Linked DNA regions of Homo sapiens. The protein of the gene in region 3 binds, or shares a complex with, the protein of the main gene of each other region. Each region holds a gene or a part of one and is shown on either strand. Other genes may lie near its edges. A codon is read from its position in the direction of its gene.

The links.
Region 1: NFKBIA (region 3) and CHUK share a complex: the UniProt entries of both Homo sapiens proteins name them as parts of the 70-90 kDa complex.
Region 2: the proteins of NFKBIA (region 3) and NFKB1 are in contact, whole or in part, in a crystal structure (PDB 1NFI), measured with the Homo sapiens proteins. Residues at the interface, in NP_065390.1 of Homo sapiens: Asn108 (codon at 2,013), Asn109 (codon at 2,010), Leu110 (codon at 2,007), Gln111 (codon at 2,004), Arg140 (codon at 1,588), Tyr181 (codon at 1,465), Pro214 (codon at 969), Cys215 (codon at 966), Asn216 (codon at 963), Arg218 (codon at 957), Tyr248 (codon at 867), Gln249 (codon at 864); in NP_001158884.1 of Homo sapiens: Lys251, Ile252, Val253, Arg254, Met255, Asp256, Arg257, Thr258, Ala259, Pro326, Lys345, Leu348, Tyr350, Ile353.

Annotation. Positions count from the first base shown.
Region 1 is NC_000010.11:100,226,527-100,234,109, reverse strand, and holds the start of CHUK (inhibitor of nuclear factor kappa-B kinase subunit alpha), read left to right. Parts: upstream 1-4,513; 5' UTR 4,514-4,577; coding exon 4,578-4,682; intron 4,683-7,583. Other genes in the region: CWF19L1 (CWF19-like protein 1), read left to right, coding at 739-883.
Region 2 is NC_000004.12:102,504,335-102,511,438, reverse strand, and holds part of NFKB1 (nuclear factor NF-kappa-B p105 subunit), read right to left. Parts: intron 560-7,104; exon of another isoform or gene 507-559; coding exon of another isoform or gene 490-506; intron 1-489.
Region 3 is NC_000014.9:35,401,692-35,409,742, forward strand, and holds the start of NFKBIA (NF-kappa-B inhibitor alpha), read right to left. Parts: upstream 3,059-8,051; 5' UTR 2,954-3,058; coding exon 2,727-2,953; intron 2,108-2,726; coding exon 1,999-2,107; intron 1,670-1,998; coding exon 1,459-1,669; intron 1,169-1,458; coding exon 1,080-1,168; intron 973-1,079; coding exon 703-972; intron 370-702; coding exon 322-369; 3' UTR 1-321. UniProt on the Homo sapiens protein: Inhibits the activity of dimeric NF-kappa-B/REL complexes by trapping REL (RELA/p65 and NFKB1/p50) dimers in the cytoplasm by masking their nuclear localization signals.

The DNA.
Region 1 (7,583 bases), on a different chromosome or scaffold from region 3:
TATCAAAATAAGTAAAAATAAAAATATAAAGCAATGGCGATTAGAAGGCAGCTTGTGTGTGAGTGTGTCTGTATGTAGTTATTCTTTAGTCCTAAGAGCCAAGATAGTTGTTTTGTTGACATTGGGCTTGTGCTGCTGTTACGTGGGCCTGAGTCCCCTAGAAGGAGAGGCAGAGGAATTTTAAATCAGAGTGGGTATGACTAGGCTCCTGACTCTGCAAACTCATGTCTAGTTGAGGTGACAAAACTACAGTTTAAGGCAGGTTGTAATCACAGCTAATATGGCACTTTGACTGTGTTATCTCTGTACCTCACAAAAACCCTGTATGGTGGGTGTTCTTATTTGCATTTCATAGGTGAGGAAATCAAGACTCAGAGATGAAATCATCTGTCTAGATCATAGATAGCAAGTGGCAAAGCTGGAAATGGGATCCAGTCTCTGATCTTTCTCACACCAGGGCCTGCCCTTTTTCTATGTGGTGTTGCTTCTCTAAGTACCAATAATATAGTTCCAAGTTTTTTAAGAGAGGGAGAAGCAAGTGGGGTTTGAAGGATCAGGAAATATATAGTACCTGAGCTGGTCATTTAAAACGGGTATGATTTTGATCAATAGTATGGCAGAGATGGCACTCAGGGCAGGAGAGCAAAGTCAGAGAAATTTGCATACCTCCTTTGGGTGATGTTGAGGAGAGCTCAGGCTGATAGTTTCCATTTTGACTTCTTTGTGCTATTTCTGCAGGGAGGTCCTGGCCAGTGAAGCCATCCTTAATGTTCCTGATAAGTCTGACTGGAGGCAGTGTCAGATCAGCAAGGAAGACGAGGAGACCCTGGCTCGCCGCTTCCGGAAAGACTTTGAGCCCTATGACTTTACTCTGGATGACTAAAACAAAGGGAAGAACTTTTTATGAACTCCACAGGAAGTAGTAAAGCTTTTTTTTTTTTTTAATTAAAAGAATTTTTTTTGAGACAAAGTCTCGCTCTGTCACCCAAGCAGGATTGCAGTGGCATAACTGTGGCTCACTGTAGCCTCAACCTCCTGGGCTCTAGAGTTCCTCCCACCTCAGCCTCATGAGTAGCTGGGACCACAGGCGCATGCTACCATGCCTGGCAAACTTTTTTGATTTTTTATAGAGACAGGAGGGTCTCCCTGTGTTGCCCAGGCTGGTCTGTAATGCCTAGGCTCAAGGGATCCTCTGCCTTGGCTTCTTAACCTGCTGGGATTACAAGCATGAGACACCATTCCTGGCCTAGAAGCCTATTTTTAAAGAAACTACAATCTCCCATGGGGACTGTTTCCCTGCCTCTTTTGTGCAGTCCCATGGAACTTGCCTACAGCAAGAGGCCTAAGATTGAATCTTTTTGGGGAAAAGTCATTCTAGGATGAAAATCCTATGTTAAGGCCGGGCGCAGTGGCTCACGCCTGTAATCCCAGTACTTTGGGAAGCCGAGGCAGGTGGATCACCTGAGGTGAGGAGTTTGAGACCAGCCTGGCCAACATGGTGAAACCCCGTCTTTACTAAAGCTACAAAAATTAGCTGGGCGTGGTGCCAGGCACTTGTAATCCCAGCTACTCAGGAGGCTGAGGCAGGAGAATTGCTTGAGCCTGGGAGGTGGAGGTTGCAGTGAGCCAAGATCGCTCCATTGCACTCCAGCCTGGGTGACAGTGAAACTCCATCTCAAAAATAAAAGAATAAAAGTATGTCTGTCATCCAGCTCCTATGTCTGTTATCCAGCTCCAAGTACAGCTTGTGTATATCAACATTTTCAAAAACCTTTAAACTACCAAATGAAATCCAGATGTTTTTCCATGGTTGAGAAGTGTCTTGTGTTCATGTTGCCTGTGACCGTTGAAATGAAGTAGTATGTGTAATAGCAGGGGCTAGAGCTTTAGGCCCAGCTGTTACTCCAAAATCACACAGGGCAGTTTCTCCCTGAACAACCCAAAGTGGAAAAGGGATCCAAGGCTTTTGCTATTTTTCTCTTAAGCATTCATCTTATTCATAGATAAGAGCCCATTTAGTCCTTCGGATATTTAACTCCTATGTGCCAGGCATTTTTCTAAGCTCCAGGACCATAGTCATGTCCCAATATGGTCCCTGTTGTCCCAGAGATTACAGTTTAATGGGGAATAGAAGGGACAGATTTAAGAAAAAAAAGATAATTCTCCTTTGGATATTGTTTTAGGTGCTTGATATATCTAATATGTGTCTGTTGTGCTGCTGGGCAGTTCTAAACTCATCAGTACCTGGGTTGGTTACAGGGCTTTGGGGATCATCAGGGTATAGGCCATAGGTGAAATTAAGATAGGGTAAATACAGTCCTGAGCTGAAGATGATTACCTGAGAAATATCAGTATTTAAGGAGTGCTTGAAAATAGTGATCTAACATTTACATAGAGAAGGAGCAAAGAGAATGCTACATATTAGGCGCAAAAAGAAAAATATTTTTACCTTTATATTGGGCACTTATGGTCCAGACACTGTTTCATTTAATCTTCACAAAATCTCTGTGAGGTAGGTATTACCTCTATTTTACTCATGAAAAAAAAACTGAGACTCGGAAAATTGAAGATTGTGGAGCCTGGGGTCAACAGGCTTAGGCTTTTTAAAAAACAGGCCAGGTGGCTCATGCCTGTGATTGCAGCACTTTGGGAGGCTGAGGCAGGCAGATGACCTGAGATCAGGAGTTTGAGACCAGCCTAGCCAACACGGTGAAACCCCGTCTCTACTAAAAATGCAAAAAATTAGCTGGGCGTGGTTGCATGCGCCTGTAATGCCAGCTACTCGGGAGGCTGAGGCAGTAGAATTGCTTGAACCCTGGAGGTGGAGGTTGCAGTGAGCTGAGATCACACCATTGCACTCCAGCCTGGGTGACAAGAGTGAAACTCCATCTCAAACAATAACAACAACAACAACAAAAAACAACTCAAATTACTCATGGCCCTGGGAATGGGGGCATTTAAAAAGTTAACCAAGGGAACCAACCTGGTTTCCACAAAGATGGCCACTTCTGGGTCAGCCCAATCATCAGTATCCCTGGGTCCTCAGCATCCCTTCCTACCTCTTTTGACTGGGAATTACGAGATTACAGCCCCACCTACGGAAATTGAGCACATTAGCACTGGCCATGCTGTACATACAGCAAATGAGAGGGCTTCATACTGTTACAACAATCTGTACCACAATTCTCTGTGCGGTCTGCCCAGCTCTAAATGACATGTCCTCAGAGGCATCATCATCTCCAAGTCCATGGAAACCATGCACTTACAGAAACCAGAACCTCCCATACCACATGTTACTAATGACCTACAACATCGACTTCGTCTGTATCATGCAGTGCTCAACATTCTGGTTGCAGCATCACATTTATCAATAATTTGATTCCATGCTGATTCCTTTACTTGGAGTATTGAGATCCCCCAGGTACAGTGAAGGTATGACCCTCTTAAATGGAAGACCAGGAGTTGTTTCCCCTATGCTATGGCAATCCGCCACCCGGAAGCACTTGCTGCACCAACAGCATTCCCAAAGCTTGCCTCTGCAGCCCTGTAGCACCCATTAGAAACACTTCTCACAATGAACTACTGTGCTGGCAAACCCATAACTGGACTGCCGGACAGCAAGCTCTGTGAGGCATCTAGGAAAAAAGCTCGCGAAATCCCGAGAAACACTCTTCACTCCGGAATAGCGTCACATTCTTGAGTCATTTGGGATGACAGGGGATATCCTGGAGCAGGTGTATTGGGAAGTCAGTGAACAAGAAGGCTAATTCATTAGTGGGCCTGCTAGCGTAGTATTTTAACGATTTCGCAGCCTTTAAATCATTGGTGGTCTTTAGCGTGCCGGATCAGCTGGTGGTGGAGTTGGAGGATAGATGGCAGGGATCTGAAGAAAGGTGAAGTGTAGATAGGAGTAGAGACAATATGAAGTTTAGAAAAGACTAATTGCTGGACGCGGTGGCTCATGTCTATAATCCCAGCACTCTGGGATGCCAAGGTGGGAGGACTACTTGAGACCAGGAGTTCGGGACCAGCCTGGGCAACGTAGCAAGACCATGTCTCTACAAAAAATAAAAAATTAGCCAAGCGAGGTGGTGCGCGCCTGCAATCCCAGCTACTCGGGAGGTGAGAAGATCGCTTAATTCCGGGAGGTCGAGGCTGCAGTGAGCCGTGATCGTGCCATTGCACTCCAGCCTGGGCAACGGAGCGAGACCCCATCTTAATTAAAAAGAAAAAAATACAGGAGAGACTGGGCTGCTTTGAAAAGTGGATTTGACGGGAATGTGGGGTTTGGAGAGATCTTATGTTTTCCAAGACTAGAAAAACATTGTGGTTCCGTTCAGCCCTCCCGGAAAATACGTAGGGGACTTAAAGAGCGGACCGAGTACCTGTTTGTTTCCCCATCCCTTAGCCGGCAGGGCTCTGGCAGCGCCCTGGGAGAACTTAGGGAAGGGCCTTCTCGCAGCGGTTACCGGAAGTGACGCATTCATTCTCGCGAGAACAAAGACGCGCGAGCATCGGCGGCCCGGAACCGGCCTTGGAACAACTGTGGAACCTGAGGCCGCTTGCCCTCCCGCCCCATGGAGCGGCCCCCGGGGCTGCGGCCGGGCGCGGGCGGGCCCTGGGAGATGCGGGAGCGGCTGGGCACCGGCGGCTTCGGGAACGTCTGTCTGTACCAGCATCGGGTGAGGCGGGGCGTGAGAGGGAGCGGCGGTGGGTTGGAGCGGCGGTGGGTTTGAGCGTCTGTGGAACACAGGGCTGACAGTGTGGGATAGATGGTTGGTGGGACCTTGGGCAGTATTTGGGGGCCAGTGGGCTTGTGTGTGTGTATTAGAGAGAAAGATACTATGCCTGTGTGTCCAAAGTTGTATTTGAGGTACTGGGCATAGATAGAGCTGTTGCGGGGAACTTGGGTATGACTGTCAGGCTGTGACCAGGTGTTTAGTGAGTGTGACAGTGCGTGTGTGTCTCTGTGAATGTGGAGTGTCAGGGTGTGTGAGGCAGATGCACGTCACAGTGTGTATGTAGGAGCACGAATGTGTGAGAAGAGGGCTGAAGGGGACTGCCTTTGGGAATGTGTGCGTCCGTGTGTGTGTGTGTGTGTGTGTGTGTGTGTGTGCGCGCGCGCGCGCGCGCTTGGAGGCCATATGATATCAGTGGGGACTGGAGTAGACAAGGAAGGCTTCATGATGGGTCCAGAGTTAAGCCTTTGGAAGCATGGATGGGCTTTGGAATTGGGGATGTATTCCAGGTCGGGACAGTATGAGGGTGAGTTGGTGCAGAGCATGGCTTCAAACGAAAGGCTATATTAGTAGATGGAGATGGGGGGCGCTCTAGTAGGTGGAGGACAGTTAACATCAGACTCAAGAATTTTACTTTGATTTAATAGAGAATGTTTAACCATTGTAGTAGCAGTTAAAAAATCATATTTGGGTCTTGTTTGTTTGTTTTTGTTTTTGAGACGGAGTCTCACTCTGTCGCCCAGGCTGGAATGCAGGGCGCGATCTCGGCTCACTGCAGCCTCCTCCTCCCGAGTTCAAGCGATTCTCCTGCCACAGCCTCCTGAGTAGCTGGGATTACAGGCGCCCGCCACCGTGCCTGGCTAATTTTTTTGTATTTTTAGTAGAGACGGGGTTTCACCATGTTGGCCAGGCTGGTCTCGAACTCCTGACCTCAGGCGATCCACCTGTCTCAGGCTCCCAAAGTGCAGAGATTATAGGCGTGAGCCACGGCACCAGGCCTGGGACATGTATTTTTTGATATACCGATAAAAGCTGTGAACCCTTTCCCCAGAAAAATGCACAGATGCACATTCACACAACCATGCATTGCCATTTGAGAGGTTCGTGCCTTCCTAAAGGACATTTTAGGTAAATAGACCCTGGACTAATAATTCCTGTAATATAGGCTTTGTTTTGTTGCCTGTAAAGTAAGTATAGTATAATAATTACATGCATCATGGATTTGAGAGTTAAATAAAATAGTAATGTGTGTAAAGCTAAATACGGTACCTGACCCATGAAAGCCCTCAACTGTTAGCACCTGCTGCTACTTTGTTGTTGTTGCTGCTATGATCATAATGCTCCTCATTAATTGGCCTTAAGGAAATGTCAAGATAAAAAGTGTTGTTCTAGGAAAATGGTTTTGTAAAGGATAAATTTGAGTGGAACAACATATGGGACAAGATGAACAGGTAAGATCTTACTAAAATGCCTGGGCTTGGCTTGTGAATAGAGAAGTTAATTCAAGAGGAAAAGTAATAATTTGTTATCTAAAGGAACATGGGTGTAGTGAGAAAGCTCGTAATTTGGGGTGGGAGAAAGGGGAGATAGGAGTCTACCTTGGGAAAATAGGCATATTTAGGGTAATTAGAATGACAACTGAAACTGTTAGAACTGAGGAAGTTTTGTGAACCAGGTTTCTAGATAGGGCATAGGAGAAAATCTTGGAGAAAGAGAATGGAAGGTGAAGGACTAAGGCATTAAGTCCTGTGATAGCAGGATAAGTAGTAAATTTAATAATTCTCACCATCAGAGGGAACATAACACACTAAAAAAAAAAAAAAGTGGGAGCCAAGTGCTTCCAGTGGCATGTTGCCTGTGTTACCTAAGCCTGCCTATCCGCCTGGTCATAAGGAAAAAGGATGCATGCTGGCAGCTTTTGTGACTTCTTTTCTTGGTCCCTGGGTGGGGATGGATGAATTAATCACTTTTTGTTTTATTATGGTAAAGTATACATAACACAACATTTATCACTTTATTTTTAAGTGTACAGTTAGGTGGCATTAAGTACATTGACGTTGTTGTACAGCCATAACCCTATCTCCAGAATATTCCGACTTTTTTGTTGTTGTTGTACATCTATAAACTTCCCATAGAATATTCTTTGTGAAAAGGTAGAATTTCACAGAGTTGATGAAATATAAATTAAGGAGTTGAAGGATCTTACAAAGTGGGATTTTTGAAATAGATAACTTATTGCTCCATTAACATGAGCATTCAGGGCTCAGTGTTGTTCATGGTTGTGCCTGATTCTCATTTCCATGGTGGTAAAGGCCTGCATGGGACATAGATATAACTGGTCACCTGCTCATAACAAAAGGAAGATTGAAGGGAGTGAGAACTGTGGGTAGGCTAGCATGCAGTCTATCCTAGTTTCCTTCTTCTCTATGCACCAGGTATCATCTTATCTCTAGCTTCTTTTTTCCTCTCACCCTCCAATTCACACTACCCTATCCAAGCTATGTCTTGCTTCCCCACCTATAATATATTTTTTCTGTCCTGGCCCCTGGGCTCTTCTCTCTGTATTCATACACAGCCTTTATTACAACTCTGGTTTGTGTCAGAGATTACATATGTTGGAAATTCTTTTGAACTCTCCTTGTGATATCAGAAACATAGTGTAGCCTGTTTAGCCCTGACTGCTATTTCTGAGCTGCATTATTAATGTTGCCAGAATATGATGGGGTCTGGCTATTTCCTGTAATATGCATCAGAATGGGTTTAATTTCAGTCAGAATTGGCTAAATTACTAGTCACAGGCAAGAGATGTTAGGTTCATTATGTAGCTATGGAAGCAGAAGTACA
Region 2 (7,104 bases), on a different chromosome or scaffold from region 3:
CCTCCTGAAGTACTGGGATTACAGATATGAGCCACTACGCCCAGCAAGAAAATTTTAAAAACTGAAAAGACTACATGATTTAAGCTCCATGAATTTCTGGATTTCTGTCTTGTTTGGCACTGTGTGCCTTGTCCTTAGAACTGTGTCTGGCACATAGAAAGGACTCAACATATATTCAAATAAATCACTGTTAAAGAAATAAAACCCTACTTATGTTAATCAGCTTGATTTAATCATTTCACAATGCATATGTATATCAAAACATCATCTTGTGTACCATAAACATATATAATTTCTGTCAACTGTACTATACTAAAGCTGGAGGTCAAAAAAAAGGAAGGAAAAAATAATAAAAAAATAAAAATCACACTATACGAAGATGGAAGAGCTTCTATAAACAAGCAATGCTTCCCCTACTCCACCCCTCCTCATCTCCAATCCTGCTTTTTAAAGGCTGACTTTTTAACACTCTTTTTCTTTTTAGTTTACCTGGTGGTTCTTTTCATATCTCCAAGATATGCTTCTGTCTTTTTTCTTGATGTAGGACGTTGTGTTCCTTCTAGGAAGGAACAGAGGAGGATTCAGCTCATACTACCACCACCTCCCCTTCTTCTCCCTCCAAATATAGTTATAATTAGTGAGACCTTGAATCAATCTAGCATTTAAATATTAAACTTTACATTCAATTTTTGTCTCAAGTTTTCCATAAATTTCTTTGGAGAAATATGAATGCGAGAGACTGAATAATAATGAAAAAATGCAACACCAGAAACATCTGGATTTGAGAAAGAACCTACACTGAGACCAAAAATTATAACTTATTATCGACAAAATGGGCAGTTCCTCATATTATCATACTGATAATCAAGAATTGGCTTGGTACTTACTCACATGCATTTTTCTTAAGTTGACCTATCTTGATATGGCAAGAAAATCTGAAGTCTTCCAATTAATACAATTACATCAAAGAAACACATAATTTTAGAGAGAGATGCTCATTTTGTCAAACCTCATTTTTTTTACAGAACAAAAATAAGACTCAGAGAAGTTAATTAACTTGCTCAGAGCCACACAGTTAATTGGCAGCACTGTCTCTTGATATCTTGTTCGGTATTTACTTATTCAGCAAACACACCAGGTGCTGTGCAAATAAAAAGTAAATAAGATGAACTCCTTGCCCTCAAGATGTTTCTTTTCTAGGACCCACAGGAATTCAGGAGAACACAGAATGGGGGCACATAACTCTTTATGGAAAGGGGAGGGAGAAAACAGAAAGGCAAGTGAGAGAAATGGTGATGCTCAAACCAGGCCTAAGGGTTTAGAAGTTAGCAGGATGGCTAGGAAAGAAAAGGCACTTCTCATACAGGGAGGGCATAAGCAAAGGCATTCAAAGTCAGAAACTGTGGATAGGAAACTGAAAGTCGGTGTGGAGGATTTGAGATTAGGGGATGGTTGGGGAACACCGGAGGGAGTAAGGGGGTGAGGTGTGCGAGAATCAGCTTGTGAAGACAACTGGGATTCACTGCAGAGACATGATCCGATTTACACTTTAGAAAGCTGACCATTATGCGAAATGAACGATGGGTTAGAAGCAGGAGACAATGCAAAAATAAAATCTAGAAATTCAACGAGGAAGGGATGGATTCTGGAGATGAGGAGGCTGCCTTGATAGAACTTGGTGACTGACTGAAGAAGAAAGCTGAATGTATAAGAAGGGCTTCTAGATTTCTGGCATGAGAAATCTACTGAATGGACCCTAACAGGCTAACAACCGCATTCCCTAATGTGCTGGGGATACCAATCTGTGCAAAGGGGTGGGGATCAAGGATGATGAGAAATTTAATATTGGCATATAGATGTGAAGATACTTAAGTGCCTCAGCAATAAAATCATTTCTGTAGCTTGCCTTGAATGACTGGACTCCTACAGTTCAACAGATACTCAGTAAATATAGCACAATTACTCCAAAAGTCATCTATTTCAACACAGGATTGAACTACCTCTCTAAGCAACTTGGATTGACTCCTATTTGGCTATTACAGAAGACTTTCTAAGAGAAATGGGATACTTCCCCACCCATCACAAAAAAAGAATTGTAACTGCAGGGTAAATGATTATGTAATGGTTTAAAATAGGAAATATTTTTAAAGTTTCTAAGGATTGCTTTTTAAATTTGGTTAAATGTCTTAAATGGGAAATCGAGTAAATATATAAAGAGACACCATAAAGACATTATCTCAAATTAACGCTATGATATGGTATGAGAGTGAGTAAATGCATTTGACTATTGTTGGACTGCTGTGCTTTTGATTTTAATTTCCCAGGTACTTATATTTGCTTGATCGCAACTGACTTCTAAAGTGTTTTTTCATAATGTGGTGAAAAGTCCATTCTTACCAGTTTAGCAAAAATATGATAATCCATTATGAAATGTCTGCCGAAAGGTTCTATCCAAGGGCAATCTCTCTTACTTCTTTCATTATGACCCTCCATGAGATGAGATATACAATTTATCTCATTGTATTTCTCAACCATGAGATATATGATTTGTCCTTTTATTTATAATTCTCATTCACTTTCTAGATTATTCTATCTTCACATTCAAGTTGATAACAAAGTTTAAGTCTTAGTTTTATAGAGGACTCTTCCCCCTAAATCTTTATGCTTTCATTATCCTTTGCTTTGACCAATCTTTCAAAAGACTCAGGTTTAAAATCACATACACATATACAAACGATGCTTAACCTATTCACCTTATCATGTATTAGCAGTATAATAAATGAATGCATTAAATGAATAGGGTAGAGAAATGGCTATATTTTTGGTTCATTTTAAGCCATCTCCTCTGAAAAGTAGTTCCCCAGGTTTTTTGCTTGGTTTGAAATTAGCAGTATGAACACACTAAAAATTTTTTTCCTATTTCCTAGATTGTATATTCAGTTTTCAGTTTTGATTTTACGTAAATCAATTGCTGATTTAAGTACTTTCCTGACTATCCAACTGAGCAAAAAATTAAGTGTAATTTAATTTTAATTCTTAACATTGCTTTCAACTTCTAATTTCCTCTACATAAATAGCCACCCACACATGCTTCTTCCATCATTCCACATCATCATCATTTTAATTTTATAAATCATGAAGGTTCTTGTATTATATGCAGATGCTATAAATTGTAAGGTATTCTCCTCTGGCCTCATTACCAAGTCCATACCCCATTTAAAAGAAAAAGACACTGAAGGTTATAGATCAAGTCTTAACAGTCAAACACCAATACATGTTTAAGCCTTACAAAATAAGCCTATACTTAAGAACTGGTAGACAAAGAGGTTCTTCAAATATCAATAAAACATGATTTGGGAATTTGTGTTAAAACATCCAAAAATAGTTATTTTCTCATTCCTAAAATTCTTGTCATGGAAGACATATTTTCTAAGACAATTAAGTAATCTATTTTCACTATTTAAATGAACTGCAGGCTTGGGCTTAGAACCAATAAATAGGTTGATTAGGGAGTCTGTCATCACTTTTATGTTTTCTTTTTTACATACTTGTTATATGGTAGAATTGACGTCTGGGATAAAGAGGGATAGGTGTGCCCTAACACTGAAATATGGTATAGTATTTTCAGTCCAAATGACATGATAAATAATAAAAATAATTTTTTGAAATAACTGCTTTTAACAAATAAAAGTCATTAAAAACAAATTGCTTTTTAAAATGGGACATTATAGAGGTATGCTCAACTTTATGCAGGTCTTATACTTTCTTTAGTTCAAGTTAGTGAAAAGTAAATCCTAGAAATATTAGTGAGCCTCATTTATCAAAAAGGTTCACCTTGGCCAAGCTAGGTGGCTCACGCCTGTAATCCCGGCACTTTGGGAGGCTGAGGCGGGTGGATCACTTGAGGTCAGGAGTTTGAGACCAGCCTGGCCAACAGAGCAAAATCCCATCTCTACTGAAAAAAAATAAAAAATAAAAAATAAATTACAAAAAAAAGGTTCATCTCAAAGAAAAATCTAATAGCTTTATTTTCCAATATGAAATGCATGAATTGTCCATACATTTCTACTAGTAGCGTAAGGATTATAACAAAGTTAGAGCCTTGTTTGTTTTGTTTATGCTTCTCTTCATGCCCAGAAGCTGCAGACTGAACTCGTAAGGGAACACACAAAAATTTATCTTTTTCTGGAAGCCATCTCATGGGGAAGTCACAGGCAGAGTGCCTGGATTATTTTATTATTTTAACAAACACTGCCGCTATTAATCTTCGGAGTACTTTTCAACAATGACGGCTTTACAGTGCAATTGTTATAGATGTTAACATTTAATTTCTTTCTCATTTTGCTGGCAACAACAAAAAATATTATATATACATATTTGTAACTAATATATATTAAATATAATTATATTAGTTACAAATATGTATTTATACATATATCATTATATTTAATATACATATTAGTTACAAATATGTATATATATAACCTTTTTTGTTGTTGCCATATCTGTATATGTAACTAATATATATCAGTATATTTAATATACACATTAGTTACATATATATGTAACTAACTTTTAACTTAATTTTTAAACTTGAATGTTTGTTGTGAGTGATGTGAGGGGAGATCAGGGTCAGAACCAGAACTAAGTGGCAGCAAAGCAGAATGAACTGAAGTGAGCAGCGCTCAATAAAATGGTTGTTTTCCCACAGGACTGCATTAGGGTTCCCAGGGGGCACAATGACACTAGGACAGGGAGTATTGGCATTTTGCTCTTTTCTAGTCTAAATGGTATATTTCATTTAAAAAACTGTGTCCACAAAAAAATAAATGGTTCAATTCAGAAATTCAAGGCCAACTTTTAAAAAATGCTACAACTGAAAAATAATGAACAAACTGTGCTAGGATGAGGCCCCAGCTTCTATAGTGTTGGAAAAATCATTAAAGTATGAAAGTGGAAAGTACAGTAAACCCTGCTAACTGCCTGCTTGTTCCTGAGGTTTGCCATCTAGTAACTTTTAACAGTCACAGATTTATGGGTGATAGGTGTTTAATTCTAGAGGTAACATAACAAAATAACATATTTTGTTTTAACTTTTTGGTTGATTAATTTAGATAAGTGTTAACAATTCTTAGATTACCAAGCAGTGCTTGTAGCATTGTTTCTTTTTTGGAGGTATTAGTATTTGATATTACAGTTTCAATGGAGTGTACAGAAATTCTAACTTCACCAAAAAATTACATTTTTCAATTTTACAAGCACCTTTTATCATTCCAATTACTTTATAATCTTGCTCTGGTGCCTCTAAAACTTTGAAACTAAAAGGCATTTTTTTTCTAGTTCATAAATGCCTCTTTCAGAATGAAATGTTCCCCTTTTGGAAGGCGCCAGATACTTTTTAATAAATTATTTGTTCTAGTAAACTTCAAGTGGTCTTTAGATAAGATTTCCATAATATCTAAGACACAAGGACTATTTTGTGCTCCTTTCTTTCCAGAAGGCAAAGCAAAATAATGTAATTTTTGTTCCTTATAGAAGATGGCTGTCCATTTAAAAAAAAATTTTGCAACAACTTCATATCATTCATTCATTTAACAGTTAATGATTGCTTACTATGTACCAACAAGTACAATGCTAAGCATCAGATATTTCTTTCGTCAGTATTGATTAGATATTATTTATTTTTAGTTAAACTAGAGTATTTGATTCTCTCAAACAGCTTTTTCTTTATTTCATTTTTTATAATTTTGGCTATTTTAAAGAATAAATTCTTTTCTAAAGCTTAAGCAGTCAAAATTTGTCACAGTTTAAACTAATAGGATCCATAGATGAACTCAAGTCTGTTGATATCTACTGAAGGCATGGGTCAAAATAAAAGCTATTTTAAGGTTTCTGGATTAATGGTGAAAGATGAATGAAAAATAATAAGGCAATTTGTAATGGATAATTAAACCAAATATATCATTATTCTAATTTCAAAAACAGGCAATAAATTAAAGCAGATGAAATTTGTATTACTGATAATTAATTCTGTTTGTTACTACAGAAAATATGACACAATAAAAATTGTTTTCTTTTTAAAATGTAAAATGCACTATTTTTATTATTAGTACTCTAAATTAAACAAATATTTTCATCCATAATCTATCTTCTGAGATTTCTATAATCTTTAACAAATCACATCTTATGTGACTCTTATTCTGTACAGAACTGTCAGGCTTTAAATTATTTGAGGTGTAGCAATGCAATTTGCACAACTTATTTTCTAAACTGTTGGCTGATCTTCAAGGCCAGGTCAACAACCTCCGGAAATGTAAAAGACAGTATATTAATTTGCACCCAGGAACAACCCCTAATACAGCAGAGACCAAAGGTATGAAGCAATTTCATCATCATTAAAAGAATGTTACTACTTTTTTCTCTTTTTTTCTTCTAAAAGTGAGGCACTGGATACTAATTAATGAAATACTACAAAGATAAAAGGCTTGGTTATGTTACCAGAACTATTAACTGTCCAAATTATGTGGTTTCAAATATTAATCTTTTTTGATTAAAAAAATTCACAGTCAAGGAGCCAAACTGACTTGCAGGACTATGCCAAAACGTTCAAACCTTTCTCCCTGAGGCTGAGTACCTTCAGTTCTTCCAAACTGTCTGTCTCCAAAGTAGTGACAAAATTCAAAGAGAGATCATATGCTCTTGATGGTTTATTGCTGACCTCTAAGAACACTACAAGTGAGTTCAGTATTTATGGGAGGTGCAAGAGTGCAAATGAGAACTAATTCCCAAAAAGCAGAGTAAATTGCTCCAGTATGGTCTACTGTTTACCAAGACGTAGTCATCAATTAATGCTGATTAGACACAAATGTAGATGTAGGAGCAGAACATCTTAACATATCCTCTAGCACTAACTTCTATTTTTCCTTCTCCTTCTCTTCTAATATAACAATCCCACTACTGTAGACAATTCACCTTGTAAACAGAAAACCAACAGACCAACCGAATAAAACAAACTTCCTACTAAAAGTAAGAAAATTAATGAGAAATTTTGCATAGACATCCATTCCTGTTAATGTGATTTCTGATCAATCTGTGGACCAGAAG
Region 3 (8,051 bases):
TCAGTCACTCGAAGCACAATAAATATAAAATGTGGTCCTTCCATGAAATTTTTGATAACCTTCTCCAAAAACCCCACAAAGGTGAGGTTTAAAAGAAGTTTTCTCAGAATTTCAATGATCTTTCTCGTCCCCTACAAAAAGTTCACAAAAGCAACAAAATGAGGGCTGATCCTACCACAATAAGACGTTTTGGGCCAGGCAGTGTGCAGTGTGGATATAAGTACACCCTTTAAATTTTTTCTTCTTTTTTCTTTTTTTAGAAAAATAAAACTTTTTTTTTGTACAAATATACAAGTCCATGTTCTTTCAGCCCCTTTGCGCTCATAACGTCAGACGCTGGCCTCCAAACACACAGTCATCATAGGGCAGCTGAAAACAAGGGGAAAAAAGACACGTTAAGCTTCCGGAGCGGAGCTCTGCCAAGCTACCGGGATGGGGAGGCCACTACTGGAAATAACTCTTGGACTCCATTCTCCATAGCCCAAATATAATGAACTTTACAGGCTGAGAGAGTTTGCCTTTAATGCTTCTCTTTAAAAAAAGAGGGGGGGCAGGTACATTCTTGGGATACTGGTTATGCACAGAAATTTGAGAGACTCATTATGTAGATACCCCTCTGATAAGGAGCAGCTCTAGGGGCCTGGGAGGGTGAAGGGAATGGCACCTCATTAGTTAGAGCGCCGAAGGAGTTCACAGACTCACCTCGTCCTCTGTGAACTCCGTGAACTCTGACTCTGTGTCATAGCTCTCCTCATCCTCACTCTCTGGCAGCATCTGAAGGTTTTCTAGTGTCAGCTGGCCCAGCTGCTGCTGTATCCGGGTGCTTGGGCGGCCCCAGGTGAGCTGGTAGGGAGAATAGCCCTGGTAGGTAACTCTGTTGACATCAGCCCCACACTTCAACAGGAGTGACACCAGGTCAGGATTTTGCAGGTCCACTGCGAGGTGAAGGGCAGTCCGGCCATTACAGGGCTCCTGAAACCAAAAGGAATTTGAGATGCTTATGGCTGCATTTGGAATTTCTGCTCACAACATAAGCACGAGGAGCCTGACTCAGTGCGTCGGGGGCAGGAAGCACCAACCTGAGCATTGACATCAGCACCCAAGGACACCAAAAGCTCCACGATGCCCAGGTAGCCATGGATAGAGGCTAAGTGTAGACACGTGTGGCCTGGAAGAACAAAAGGAAAAAAGTATAACCACCTGTTTCAACCCTCACTCCTTTCACCTATTCTTTTATGGAACAAGTAGTCTTATCTTCTGAATTTTAAGAACCCACAGTCTGGGTTCTGAAAGAACTTTATAAAGGCATCCAATAGGCACTTTGCACACATATTTTCTCAACCTTCCAAATGTTAGGAGTTTAAGCTCTTGCCTGGACTCCTTAAGTTGGCCCACCTGCCCCTTCTCCACGTCACCTGCCCTCCGAGGGGGTGGGGCAGGGCAGGGAGGCAGACATACCATTGTAGTTGGTAGCCTTCAGGATGGAGTGGAGGTGCGGGGTGGTGCAGGACTGAGTCAGGACTCCCACGCTGGCCAGGCAGCCCTGCTCACAGGCAAGGTGTAGGGGGGTATTTCCTCGAAAGTCTCGGAGCTCAGGATCACAGCCAGCTCCCAGAAGTGCCTCAGCAATTTCTGGCTGGTTGGTGATCACAGCCAAGTGGAGTGGAGTCTACGAATGCAAGAGAGACCAGAGAAAGTAAGCCATGGACCAAACCCACACCCCGAGTTCCCCTCAACCCGTGTCTCCTGGTTGGGTGCTGCTCCTCCTAGACAGGGGGGTGGGGAGGGCTGGCAAATAGCAGAGGCTCCAGGTGGGTCATAAAGACCTCACCAAATCAGTGGAATTTCCTTCACTCTCTAGGATGTGGGCTGATGTGAAGTAAAAGGTGAGGGTAAATAGTGCTCAGTGGCCCTGAATTCAGAAAGGATCTGGGGTGACTCTGCTACATCAGCTACGTCCCAGGGTCAGAGAGAACCCGGGCCAGGCAAGCGGCGCACCTGCTGCAGGTTGTTCTGGAAGTTGAGGAAGGCCAGGTCTCCCTTCACCTGGCGGATCACTTCCATGGTCAGTGCCTTTTCTTCATGGATGATGGCCAAGTGCAGGAACCTGTGGGGAAGAGAGGGAAAAACCCCAGGGGTGGTGAGTGCACCGCGTGGGGCCCAGGGAGGCGCGGGCTGCGGGGGATTGCGCAAGGCCGGGGTTTCTGGAGGCCGAGGCCGCGGTGTTTTCCGCGAGGTTATTATGAGCTGAGTGTTCCTGGCAGGCGCCCAGGGACTTTCCGCCCCCCTCCCCCCGCGGCCCCGGCGGGCGCCGGCCAGACCGCCCCGCCCTCCCGCCAGCTCGGAACGCCCTGTACTTCCCCTCCCGGCTGCTCGGCGCCCGCCAGCGGCCAGAAACTCCCGCCCCGCCTTATGCAACCGGGGACTTCGCGTCCCCGCTGCCGCCCCGCCCCCGGCCTAGAGGACGGGTCTGGGGGGAGGGGGCGTGTGGCGACGCTGCCATCCACCAGGGCCCAGCCGCCGCCCCTCCGAGTTGGGCCGGTGCCCCGCGCGGCCCTGCAGCCCTGCAGCGTTCGGGGCGGTGCAGGAGCCCCGGGGTGCCGCGGCGCCCGCCCGGCTGCATCGCTGGTCCCCCGGCTCGGGCTCCAGGCCCGGCGCCTCCCACCCCCAGGCCGCGCGCGTCCCGCCCTCCCGACGACCCCCAGCCCCGGGCCTCCGCCACTTACGAGTCCCCGTCCTCGGTGAGCTGCTGCTTCCAGGGCTCCGAGCCGCGCGGCACCTCCTGCGGCTCGAGGCGGATCTCCTGCAGCTCCTTGACCATCTGCTCGTACTCCTCGTCTTTCATGGAGTCCAGGCCGCTGTCGTGGCGGTCGTCCAGTAGCCGCTCCTTCTTCAGCCCGTCGCGGGGGCCCTCCATGGCCCACTCCTGGGGGCGCTCGGCCGCCTGGAACATGGCGCGGACGAGCTGCGGGCGCTGCTGCGGGTGCGCTGGGCCGCGGGCTGCGCGCTGCTTCCTCGCTGGGGCGCTGGCGGGCGGGACGGCGGCACGGACTGCTGTGGGCTCTGCAGCGCCGCCGCGGCGCCCTATAAACGCTGGCTGGGGATTTCTCTGGGGCGGGGTCAGGCTCGGGGAATTTCCAAGCCAGTCAGACCAGAAAAAGAGAACTGGCTTCGTCCTCTGCTAGGGGGAAAAAGAAGCCTAAACCCTGAGCTGGGGTTCATCGGAGAAACTCCCTGCGATGAGCCACTAGGGTCACGGACAGGGAACTTTTTGATGAGCGCCGAGTGGCTGGAAAGTCCTTCCGACCAGGCCCCCTCCCCCCGGTACTTCCCTGCAGCCTGCACCCTGTAATCCTGTCCCTCTGCAAGTGAGCCTTCTTTCCCTGGGGTTTCCCACGATCGATTTGAATTGGGGTCGTCGGCTGCTGAGATCCCAAGGACGCCGACCTGATGGGCGGTCCCTCTTTGGGGTTTGCCAACCTGCCGGTCCTTTCCGTTTTTTGATCTTTTGAAAACGCAAGAGTGGAAATGATGGCTGGGCGTAGGGATTTGCTTTCCCCAGACTTCTAAGGGGAAGGACGCACTGTGGTTAGGGGGCTGCAGGCCGCGCCGGTGTTTCTGCCTATACCAGGCTCTTTGCAGCAAAGGAACTTTTAGCTTCGCCCCCACCCCCCCACGCACCCCCGCCAGGTAGAAGTTGTGAAAGCTTTGGAGGAGTGAAAAGCCTAAATCCTTGGAGAACTCTCAAATCACTTCCTAGGGATGAACAGCCCTGTTGACTGGGGGAGGGGCAAACGCTCCCTGTATGGGGAAACTGCTGAATAGGACCATGATTTTTTTTGTTTCCCAAGTAAAGCAAGGTGTTAATGTTTGTAGTGGTGGTTGTGGATACCTTGCAATAGCAGAGTAGCTATTGTGTTCATAAGTAGCTATTCGTTTATGCTATCTGACCTACATTGTGCTCCCGCAGAAAAAGGATCGTGAGCCTACTTCTGGGCACCCAAATTCGAGGAGAACTTAGAGAAGGAGGCTGAAGAATGAGTTTAGTTAGTGCCTTAACCGCGATTGGACCTTAAGGACCACTAAGAAAGTAGTTGCCAGGCATCCTGCGGGAGGCTCAAGGTAGTCCCATCCTGCCCGCCCCTCCTTGCTCTCTTGTCCTGGGGGACAGTAGCAGTTGGACCCATTCACGCCACCTGGGTAGAAAGGGGTTTCGGCTCACTATGCTCTGGTTTCACCTGCAGAAATATAATTTATGCTCTCCACTCCACCTCCACCTCCAAGCCTGCAAGCCATGGACTGAATTCATCTACTTGGTAGAATTGGTACAGGCAAAATAAAGCAAACTTCGGTCAGAGCTCTTCAGAATTAGTCCCAGGAGGCCTCTGTAGTTCTGCAGAGATTTCTGGTGATTATTGCAATCATCTTTACCTTGACTGGCCTTGTACTAACCAATCCTTCCCCTCTCTTCGTATCTCCACCCCTCCCCTAATATTAGAATGAAAGAAATCTGACTCGATAGAGAGAGACCAAGTATGAAGGGAAAAAAATTAAAATCAGATAGACCCTCCAGGGTAATAATGATCACATGTTACAATGAAAACTTCCCAGGGATAGACACCATTGTCTCTGCAGGTTTATGATATGCAAATCTACAATGATTGAGGCAAGGTGAAACAGTGACTGCAATGGGACATCTCAATTCCAGGTTCTATCTTTACTTGACTGCACATTAGTTGGAGAGGTCAGTTAACTTTTTTGTGGTATACTTAACTTTTATAATAAGATTAGATTGAATGTTACTTAAGGTCTTTTCTAGCTTAAAAGTCATATTGCTTGTCTACAAATGCATGCCTAACTCTCCTTTGTAAGGGTGACCATGGCTCTTGGAAATGTCAGGGTATAAATTTTTGAAAGAATTCCAGCGCCTTATGTACCACATTGTTCTCAGAACTAATCTTGTAAGATAGATATTGTTCCTACTTCCCTAAAAAGAAACTGAAATGCATAGAAATTTACCCAGGAACCCCTTGGCAGTATATTAATCATTTGGCCAAAGCAGTCTTAGTATTAACACTTTTGAAAACACGCTGTGAAAATCAGACTGACTACACTATAATTTGGAATGTACTCAAAAGTATTTTCTACTCCAACTGTTAGGGAAAATAAAGGGTGGGTGTCCCCTGACCCCCATCTGGGGATAGTCACTTCTTTTAAACAAGTACAGAAACATCAAACTCTAAATGTCCCAATTATAGAGGATACATCAGAAGAAGATATTTGGCTTCAGGTATAAAAATGGTTATAAAAAATAAAAATATCTGAGGAATAAGGTTTTTTTGCACCACCTTCTATGGTTTTATATTTCTGGTAGCCTTCAGGATCTTGGTGTTTATTCCTGATTGTTTTGTGTGACACCTAGTGGTAAGAGTAAGGCACAGGCGTTCCTTGATTTGTCATAGTGCCTTTTGCAAAAATTGGGAGGTGCTGAGCCTTGATGACTTGTCCCTACAGTGGAGATTTCCAAGGAGGTACCTATTGTTTTCCTGCGACTCTGGGAAACAGTTTTGAATAATGTGATCCAACAGGTTTTCTCCCCATCATCTATAGCGCTATATGGTTTAAGTCAACAAACATTACAACGTGGGTGAAAAAGAATATACACTTGGAAATTAGAACCATGAGCAGACTGGGCAGAAGACAACAAGAGGGTCTGGTTTTGATTTAGAAAGACCTTTATGGGCCAGGAGTTGTGGCTCACTGCTGTAATTTCAGCACTTTGGGTTGCTGAGGCAGGAGGATTGCTTGCCACCCAGGAGTTGGAGACCAGCCTGGGCAACAAGGCTAAACTCTTGTCTCTACAAAAAATATAATTAGCAGAGTGTGGTGGCAGGTGCCTGTAGTCCCAGCTACTCCAGAGGCAGAAGTGGGAGAATTGCTTGAGCCTGGGAGGTGGAGTTTGTAGTGAGCCATGATGGCACAACTGCACTCCAGCTTGAGCAACAGACTGAGACCCTGTCTCAAAAAGAAAAAAAAGAAAAAGAAAGACCTTTATGGACCCTTCAGCACTCAGATTTTTCTCCTCCTCATTGTCAAACATTCTAGCTAACATAACCGTTAAAAAAAATGTTAAAACTGTAGGCTGTGCGCAGTGGCTCACGCCTATAATCTCAGCACTTTGGGAGGCTGAGGCAGGTGGATCATGAGGTCAGGAGTTCGAGACCAGCCTGGCCAACATGATGAAACCCCGTCTCTACTAAAGATACAAAAAATTAGTCGGGTGTGGTGGTGCAGATGCTGCTTAGGAGGCTGAGGCAGGAGAATCACTTGAACCGAGGAGGCAGAGGTTGCAGTGAGCCGAGATCGCGCCATTGCACGCCAGCCTGGGCAACAGGGTGAGACTCTGTCTCAAAAAACAAAACAAAACAAAACAAAATACTTTAGATAACTGATTTTTAATGTTATTTGGCCTTTTTAATGCATAAGGCAAAATAATAAGTTACACCTCAAAGCTGCTTTGTATTTTGGCCCAGGACGCAGCCGTAGGAAATGACAGGACGGCCAGTGATGCTCCAGGAGCACCCCCATGGGAAAAGGAGCATCGCCAGGGCCTGGTTTGGCTGCAGGCACTTCAGGCACTCCTCCTGCATGGAACAAGCACAGTATGGACAAAACCTATTGCCTGAAGTGCCATGGAGAGAGTCTACAAGTTCAGCCAGGTGGTCCAAAATCCTCAGGGCAGGGTGGCCTGTGTCAACTGGCCTGGCCAATTAAAACTAAATTGTTTTGGCTACAGCAAATTCAACTCTGGAATCAGGCTACCTATTGCTCAGTGCAGCTAGGCTGGAAGAAAGACGAGCCATGACAGAGTTCCTGAAGAGCAAGGCAGGTGCACTCCCAACTGGCAGCCCCACTGTGAAATTCTAAATATTCTGCTTTCAGTCTCAGGTTGTCTTCTTTCTTGCTATCGTGGTAGCAACTGTCTGCATCCTCTTCAGAACAGGGAGCCCCCAAGCTATGGATCTTTTCCCATAGAAAAACAAGGCTGGGGGCGGTGGCTCCGACCTATAATCCCAGCACTTTGGGAGGCTGAGGCGAGCTGATCACCTGAGGTCAGGAGTTCAAGACCAGCCCGGCCAACATGGTGAAACCCCATCTCTACTCAAAATACAAAAATTAGCCAGGCGTGATGGCACATGCCTGTAATCCCAGCTACTCGGGAGGCTGAGGCAGGAGAATCACTTGACCCTGGGAGGTGAAGGTTGCAGTGAGCTGAGATCGTGCCATTGCACTCCTGCCTGGGCAGCAGAGAGAGACTCTGTCTCAATTAAAAAAAAAAAAAAGGAAAAACAGCTGTCAGAACCTTCATTTGTAGTGAAGTGAAAATAAGACCGTCAAATCCTTAATGTGTTTCCTTTGCTACAAATTCTGCAATTTAATGGAGATCAAAGCTTTAAAGGATCTCAAACTCAAAATACTTACGCATAGGGAGCAGGCAGATTTCACAGATGAGTGAAACAGACCATTTGAGTCTGAAAGGAGTGGGATCTCCAACAGCTTAGGTCAGGGTGTGTACTTCCCTCATACTTAGCTCAGACAACTTTTGGCATGTAGCACCTTCAGTTCAGTAGTGACCTTCTATTGTTAAAGAAATAAAAAAAATTGGCCCAGCTCCGTGGCTCATGCCTGCAATCCCAACACTTTGAGAGGGTGAGGCAGGAGGATCACTTGCGTTTAGGAGTTTGAGACCAGCCTGGGCAACATAGTGAGACCCCATCGCTATAAAAATAAAAATAAAAAAATTAACCAGGTGTGGTGGCATACACCTGTAGTCGCACCTACTTGGGAGACTGAGGTGGGAGGATTGCTCGAACCTGGGACGTTGAGGCTACAGTGGGCCATGACTGTGTCACTGAGCTCCAGCCTCAGCAAAAGAGTGAGACCTTGCCTCAAACAAACATAAAAACATTATGAAAACTAAACACAATGCATTTCTGCATCTATTGGCTAAACAGAGCCTATAAGCTCTGAGTTTACAACCTCTTTTTCAG